2 separate regions of the Homo sapiens genome follow, and region 1 is reported to be linked to region 2. The links are microRNA targets in miRTarBase. Many come from high-throughput screens and were not tested one by one. Region 2 holds a microRNA gene; the other region holds the end of a gene's coding sequence.
Evidence for each region. Region 2 holds the annotated microRNA hsa-miR-4441 (ACAGGGAGGAGAUUGUA, at 2,824-2,840, opposite strand). A microRNA usually pairs through its seed, bases 2 to 8, with sites in the 3' UTR of a target mRNA and lowers its output. Matches are read on the target gene's strand: a 7mer-m8 pairs with bases 2 to 8, a 7mer-A1 pairs with bases 2 to 7 and ends in A, and an 8mer does both.

Region 1: the mRNA of HOXA11 is a reported target of hsa-miR-4441. Seed matches in the 3' UTR shown: 7mer-A1 at 1,327-1,333, 7mer-A1 at 1,676-1,682 and 7mer-m8 at 2,080-2,086.

Annotation. Positions count from the first base shown.
Region 1 is chr7:27,179,653-27,183,379 of GRCh38, reverse strand. HOXA11 (homeobox A11) reads left to right here. Exons shown (of 2, transcript NM_005523.6): 2 at 352-2,223. The coding sequence ends at 584. It overlaps HOXA10-HOXA9 (HOXA10-HOXA9 readthrough), which reads left to right and starts at 3,141. Exons shown (of 3, transcript NM_001433944.1): 1 at 3,141-3,727. The coding sequence starts at 3,725. It also overlaps a transcript of HOXA10 not described here. RefSeq lists enhancers at 1-549, 3,037-3,638, 3,639-3,727.
Region 2 is chr2:239,083,005-239,087,636 of GRCh38, forward strand. MIR4441 (microRNA 4441) reads right to left here and starts at 2,922; the gene lies at 2,823-2,922. It overlaps HDAC4 (histone deacetylase 4), which reads right to left. Exons shown (of 27, transcript NM_001378414.1): 19 at 4,555-4,610; 20 at 1,151-1,238.

The sequences.
Region 1 (3,727 bases), not on the chromosome of region 2:
GTCTGGCCTGCGAGAGGCAGCCGGCAACCCCCACTTGGCTGCTTTCAAAGAGGCTTAGGCAGCGCAAACTCGCCTGTTGCTGTGCGAAGCTCTCCTTTCTGTTCTGGGGGCAGCGGGAGCAGCTTCCCCGGGGGCCTATTTAGGGAGCTGGCTTTTATCTGTGGCTGAGCCTCCAACTGCGGCCGTTCCAAGCATGCAGTCGGAGCGTTAAAGGCAGGGGCCTGGGCAGACTTTGACGGGGCTTGGGCTGGACCACCAGTCCCCATGGCAGCCCTTCTCCTCAGCTATGGGCTCTGGGGTGGATTGCAGCCCCCACACCTGGCTCACCCCATGCCTTTTCTCCCTCCACAGGTGGCCAACGCACCCGCAAAAAGCGCTGCCCCTATACCAAGTACCAGATCCGAGAGCTGGAACGGGAGTTCTTCTTCAGCGTCTACATTAACAAAGAGAAGCGCCTGCAACTGTCCCGCATGCTCAACCTCACTGATCGTCAAGTCAAAATCTGGTTTCAGAACAGGAGAATGAAGGAAAAAAAAATTAACAGAGACCGTTTACAGTACTACTCAGCAAATCCACTCCTCTAAGACTCCAGCGGCTGGAATTGGGTGGGGGGCTTCATACACATGAGATAATATGCAGATTTTGCCCTTGACAAAGTCAAGCCACATGGTGACTTTTGAAAAGAGGTGTGCAAGAGAGGGATGCATGGAGATAGCCCCACAGGAGGTGGTCTGGGACTCTCTTGATTAAGATCTCAGTGGTTAAGATTCCTAATAATCATTGGATTCTGAGAGCTGTGCATCAGCTAGAATGACAGGTTTGGGACCCCTGGTGGTTCACTCTTGGAGCCTGCAGAGCTGCGGGCTGGGTGTGGTCTCCACTGGGGATTGGGCCCCTGCCAGACCCCCTGGAGACTAACCCCACCACACCCTCCCTCTACTGGGAGCCTACCCACCCCCAGGACCCCTGAGTAAAAAAGCTGTGTGCTCTCCAAGCCCAGTTCAGCTTGGGGACAGGGGCAGGAGGAAGGGGTAGGATTACTAGGTGCCCAGAATGAGGCTGCTTTCCAAAGCCAATGTGAACAGCGGCTGGACTTGGAGGTAGCTTTGAGGTGGAAGAGGGCTGCAAATCCTTGTGGGAAAAGAAATCTATGATTCCAGGTGGCATCAGTGTCTTTCCACTCCTCCTAGCCACCCACCACACTGATCCAGCCCTGAGTTCCTAGCCACCGCCTCCTACAGCCCACCTGGCTTTTCTTTCTACCAAATGAGGGTCTTGGTTCCAGCCTGCCACTCAGGCCCAAAGCCTCGACACAGAGTGGACTGTTCCCTGAGGTGGGAGATGTGGAAAAGCCAAGAGGCTGCAGCCAGGCCACTGGCCCCTGAGATCTCTGCAGGAAATGGCTGTGGAGTGTGGCAGTTTGGCAAACTCTCCACCACACGTAATGAAACTTGGATTTGCTCAGTGTCTGGCTGCAGAGCAGTGGGCCTGGCCAGCAGGTCCCCAGCTTTGGCTATGAGGGCCTTGAGTCCCCCAAAACACCGGGTTCCAGCACCACACTCAGCCCTCATTGGCTCTTGAACTGAGCTTGGAAGCTTCTGGTGACCTTCCAAGAGCCTGAGAGTGAGGTGGAATTATTTTAAAAGATAAATATTATATTATATATATATATATTTCCCTGAAGGAACCAAAGCGAATTTTAAAAGATGCAATGTAGAGGGGAAAAGAGATGATGAAAATATTTAAAGGCCCTATCTGTTTACAGTGTTCCGTGGTTAAACTCGCTCACTGCTAAGAATATTTGAATGTATGCTTCATACAGGGATGGTGTTCAAAAAACTTGTAAATAAAGGAACCATAATCAATTTTCTTTTCTTTCTTTCTCTTTTTCTTTTTTCTTTTGCCATTAGTTGATTTCCTTTAGGGTGTTGGAGGGGGTGGAAAAGGTATTGAGAATGGTCTTTTTAATCTCTTGCAACATTTGGAAAGAGTTAGGGAAATGCTCAGAGGCAGTCGGCCTGGCCGGCCTGGGGATCTCATCTGGGAAAGCCAGGCACCCTCCCATTGAATCTCCTTTGCCTCCCTGTGTTAAGAAATGTCTGTTGGCTCCATTTGTACTGGGAGTGTTGGCCTGTCCTCAATTCTGGTTCTTACCCACCGTGTGTGTTGCAGCACTTATACAGGCAACTGGGCACAAGGAAAATAAAGACGGTGGAAATTTGAGTATCCTGGTGTGACATTCCTCTCCCTGATCGCCTTTTACTACCAAATGTCTGCCCCCCTCCCCCCACCCCCCCAAAAAATGCCTTACCTAGTTGAGGAGCAAGTTATCAGGCCCCTGAGGGGGTGAGAAGGTGACTGAGTCAGGAATTGGCTACAACAGAAGCCAGGCTTAGGAAACCAAGGTGGTTGGCTACGTCCTTGTGGGAAGTGGGGACCTGGGTGGTATCTCAGGGCCTGGAATATAGGACTTTATCCCCTCAGACTGATCTCAGCCCTGGAGAGGGCCTTGGGGCCTGAGGTGGCCAACAGGTCAGACCCCAGGCTGCCCTCGCTCACCTCAGGACAGGTAGGCCTGCAGTGGGACCGTCCGGGGGCCCGTGGAGGCTTCAACAAGAGGGAGCCTGGTCTGGGTTCCAAGGCAGAGCAGACTCCCAGGAGCCTCTAAGGGTGCTTTCTCCCCAGCTCCCAGCTGAGGCTGCTTTTTCCCTTTGGGGGAAAAAAAAAGGATGCCGATTTCCTCTTTGTTTGCTGCCTTTGAACTTCTGCCTTAAAATTGGACATCACCCATAACCTTGAGGAGAAGGGCTGAAAGGACAGAGCCCTTTGTTGCCCACCCCACCCTCTCTTCAGCCACCCAGGCAGGGCCAGAGCAGCAGATAGGGTCGCATTTGGAGAGAGGCCCCAGACCCCACTCTGTTTATTTGTTTGTGTGTTTGTCTAACTGGCGCGACTGGGGAAATCGAGCTGAAAGGGTAGTGGGACAGATCTAGAGATGAATGTCTAGGTTGATAGGCAGACACGCAGACATGAACAAGGGCCCTCCTGGGGGGCAGGGAGGGGGCGGGCTGGGAAGCCTGGGTTTAGGGAAAGACTTCCTTTGGGATGGTTAAAGATTAACCAAAGTCTCTCAAGTTGCTAGAGAGAGTCTAGCCAGGAGGACTGCTCGCGGGCGGGCGGCGGGCGGGCGCGGGTTTGATTTCTGAGCCCTATAAAAGCCCATCCTCCGATGGCTGTGACAATGTGGTCGTAAACCCGTCCGGGGCCGGCCAATTTGCATATTTGGAATGCGCCGCTATAAACCCGGCTGGGGTTTTGCAGCGATTTCTTAGATGTAAAAATGAGATCTCAATAGCAGCGGGCTGGGCACATCCTCTCCTCTCTCCTTCTCTCTCTGCCCGGAGCTGGTTTCCGTCTCTCGGCTCGGGGCTGGAACTCCGGCCCAACCTAGGCGCGCAGCCGCCACGAGATGGCGCACTTCCGATCAATGTCAAAGCCGCCGGGGAGCCGGGAACCCCAGCATGATTCTTGGCCTTTGTTCGCTTCTGATACTAAGAGCAGCACGGTACATTATTTCACTTGTCCCGCTCCCCTTCATAACAGAAAAAGGGGACTCACCCTCAAGAAGTGATTGGTATGGTAATTTAAAGCAACGCGCATTCGCTAGGCCTCGCGAGCGTCGCCGCGCGGAGAAGCCAGCTGTCCCTTGGCAGTGATTTCGGAAATG
Region 2 (4,632 bases):
CAGAAAAGGCGGAAGGGCAGCTACAGGTGAGGAGCGATGGACAAGAACCTTCCACCCCACAGAGTAGGTAATCGCTGTGAAGACGCACATGGAGGCTTTCCCGACATGTGGCTTCACACTGAGATGACCCTGTCCGCATGGTGTGTACATGGGCAATATCACAGCTCAGCGCGCAGGGAGCACGCCACACAGGGTCTACGCAGCCTGTCTGCGTGTCCTAGCGCTTCACTCTTTTGGGGATGGGTCCCCAGTCTTTAGCCATCAGCGACCTCACACTGCTCTCTTCCCAGGCACTCCTACCTGCTCCCTTAGGAGGAGCTGAGGGAGGGCTCCCGGCTCGCAGGTCCTTGGGTGTGGGGGACCCGCTGCTCTGCCGCATCCCCTGACCTGCCTCTCCGAAACAGCATGGCTGTCCTGGCTGTGCCATATTGTTTCTTTACCCAAACTCAGAAGGACTTCTCCAATTCAAATCATAACCCTACCTGACAGGGCCTGCTTTTTTCCCTTAAAAATTATGAAATAAATCATAAATACCAAAGAGAACACTAAATATGTATATATCTGGCTTTAAAAAGAGTAATAAGATGAATATCTTGAATATTAATTTCCGGTATAAGAATGAGTATACCTATTCGTGGAATTCAGATTCGGACATCATATAGCATTATTTAAAAAGAGATGACTCTTTTGGGGGCAGTGGCACCCCCCATTCCAGCAGGACCAGGTGCCCACACAGCAGCAGGAAGGCACGGGCTTCACTGGGGTGACTGAGAAGCAGACTGCCGCCTTCGACCAGGGTGAGGGTCCTCCCAGGCTCCCAGGCCACACACGCAAAGTAGATGTGGACACAGCCTCCTCCCCAACACCTGTCTTCCAAGAAGATCTCGTCGAGGGTGGCCCTGGCCGCTGCCGTCACCCACAGGCACATTTTTAGACACGCCAGGACCCCATTCGCCAGGGTCGGCTGACGGAAGCTGTACAATGACTTGTAGCAGGTTTGGGGCTTTACTTCTCCGCATCTTTGAGACCGTTTCCAGAAACCTAAGCTTCCCACATCCAAGAGCCCAGCTCCTCTGTCCACACGCTGCTGTCCGCTCGGGGACGGCAAAGGAGCAACCTGAGCTGCGCTGGCCAAGGCGGCTCTGCTTACCCAGTCCACGATGAGGATCTTGCTCACGCTCAACCTCTGCTGCAGAAGCTTGGCTGCCACGGCCACGGAGTTGAAGTAGCAAAAGCCCCTGCGGGAGAGAACTGACGCTGGAGACGAAGCGCAGGTGGGCGGTGGCCAGTTTCTCCACGGCCCGCCAGAGAGCCACTCGGGGTCCACGCAGACCTAAGAGGTCTCTGTGAGTGCAGAGCTCCTGAATACGTCGCAGGGAACCCTCAGTGATGCCGGAGAATCGGTTAACAGACAGACACGTACACACCCCACATGCAGACACACTCACACGCGTGCGCGCGCACACACACACACACACACACACAGCTCCCAAACAAGCCACTGGGGAATCTTAGCCAATGCCATAGGGTCGGCTAACCGACACGGACATGCACACACCCCACACAGACACACACACCACAGACAGAGACACACACACACCCCCCACAGACACACACACCACAGACAGAGACACACGTACACCCCACACAGACACACACACCACAGAGACACACCCTCCCACACAGACACACACACCATGCAACACGCCCTACACACATACATGCCCCACAGATACGCCCATACACCACAGACACACACCCCACACACACTCCACACAGACACACACCCCACACACACCCCACACCCCACAGATAGAGACACACACACCATGCAAACGCCCTACACACATATATGCCCCACAGATACGCCCATACCCACCCCCCCCACGTAGACACACATGCACAGATACACATGAACACCCCATACAGAAACACTCACACACACACAAACCACAGACACATACAAGCACACACACACATATACACATAAGCATATACCTATCACACACATCCACAGTTCCATACTGAGACAGACAGACACACACACACACACACACACACACACACACTCTCCTGCTTGGAGGTCCCCCACGCTCCTCTGGTAGGGAACCCTATTTCACATGTTACCAACATTTCCCTCATCTTCACCTGGAACCCTTCCTCTCAGGAGCTGCCGCCACGCCCCAGGAGACATGGCAGCCGTTCATCTCAGTTGCTTCCTGCTGACCTTCCTATATTCCAATACATAAATTACCTTTAATTTTAGAGAGTCTTACTCAAGAGACCAAGAAAACAAGCTATGAAAGTGATTCAAATAACAACGAAAACCTTCTTGATCTCAAATTCCCTTTGTCCGAATGACCACAGAAACGGAGAAACACTAGTTGTTTTGTTTTCAGAATCCGGGCTGGCATGGGGAAGCCCACACGCCCCAGGACATCCTAGACGCTGAGCTCCTGCAGCGGCTCACGGGGAGCACAGCGAAGAGCTGCAACAAAACACAATTCGTTTGTCTCCTCTGAGGTTTATTATTTGGAATATCCAACAACTCAGGTTCAAATTAGAAAAGAAACTTCAGAGAAATGAAACAAACAGGAAGCCTGGTGCCCAAGTGACTGTTCTGGGATGTGGAGCAAACACGTGGTTTTCAGGTAAAGCTACAAAGATTCCAACAAGCATCCCTCCCTGGCGGTTACAATCTCCTCCCTGTACACGAAGGACACTCTGCTCTAACACGCGGATCTGACTATCTCTCACGTACAATCTCCTCCCTGTACATGAAGGAGACTCTGCTCTAACACGCGGATCTGACTATCTCTCACGTACAATCTCCTCCCTGTACACGAAGGAGACTCTGCTCTAACATGCGGATCTGACTATCTCTCACGTACAGTCTCCTCCCTGTACACGAAGGAGACTCTGCTCTAACACGCGGATCTGACTATCTCGCACGTACAGTCTCTTCCCTGTACACGAAGGAGACTCTGCTCTAACACGCGGATCTGACTATCTCTCACGTACAGTCTCCTCCCTGCACATGAAGGAGACTCTGCTCTAACACGCGGATCTGACTATCTCGCACGTAGTCTCTTCCCTGTACACGAAGGAGACTCTGCTCTAACACGCGGATCTGACTATCTCGCACGTACAGTCTCTTCCCTGTACACGAAGGAGACTCTGCTCTAACACGCGGATCTGACTATCTCTCACGTACAGTCTCCTCCCTGCACATGAAGGAGACTCTGCTCTAACACGCGGATCTGACTATCTCGCACGTAGTCTCTTCCCTGTACACGAAGGAGACTCTGCTCTAACACGCGGATCTGACTATCTCGCACGTACAGTCTCCTCCCTGTACATGAAGGAGAATCTGCTCTAACACGCGGATCTGACTATCTCTCACGTACAGTCTCCTCCCCGTACATGAAGGAGAATCTGCTCTAACACGCGGATCTGACTGTCTCTCACGTACAATCTCTTCCCTGCACACGAAGGAGACTCTGCTCTAACATGTGGATCTGACTATCTCTCACGTACAGTCTCCTCCCTGTACGTGAAGGAGATTCTGCTCTAACACGCGGATCTGACTATCTCTCACGTCCTGCCGGCCCCTCCGTGGACGCCTGACTTCCCAGGGGTGACAGGGAGGCCCTTTCCCGGGCCCCTGCGGTTCTGTCTTGTTCTGACTGCTTCCTGGCCACAGCCTGATAGTGAACTTGTATCTGCACTTGTTCTTGCGTTGCCATCTGACAAACTGCTGCTCCAACTCTCCAAGGCAGAGCCCTATGCCACCTCCTCCTCACCGAAGCTGGCAAGATCAGGCACGCCTTCTCCATCTCCAGAGCATGGGGAGACGCTCTTTCTAGCACCACCCCTCCTCACTAGAGCGGCTACCGTCCCAGGAGACAGCATGCTCTTTGACGGGATAGATCATTCATTCACCACCCAGGCTGCAAGGCACTCCACAGACAGCTGCGGGTCTGTCCTGCCACTGGCTCTGGACACACAGGGATGGATCCGGGAGGACCCACACCCCACACTCGCCACCCTGCCCAGATCCTCAGCTGTATGGACCGTCGGCAGTCTCTGAAAGACCCGAAACAGCATCAGGATAGCTGCCTGCATGGACGTGGCTCTGTGGCTTGCTGCGTCAGTACCAGGCATTCGGCAGGCAGCTAAAAGGCCATGCGCAAAATGACCTGAGTCCTCTAGACAAGCAAGTGCTGCAGTGACTCACTTGAGGGTGAGTGGTGTTTCCTCTCCCAAGTGTTGACAACTACTCAACAACCAGAGGCTTCTCTGGACTAACCTCCACAGACCCTTTCCCATCCTTTCCTCTGATCTGTCTCCGTCATAACCGAGCAGTGATGCTCGCAGACTTTGGCATCTGCACTCCACACCCAGGAGCTGGAGCCAAGCCGGCATGCGGCACATCCTGGGTGGCCAGCAAACAGCAGCCCAGCTCCCCGCAGTCACTCACACACCCACCCAGCCCTAAGGGAGGGAAGGAAGACCTGGGTTCCCCTGCTGTGCGGGGCTGCGGCGTGTACTCACATGGGCGTGCTCTCCTCCGCATGGTGTCCAGGGGGGCGGACCACAGCAAAGCCATTCTGCAGGTGACACCAGACAGCC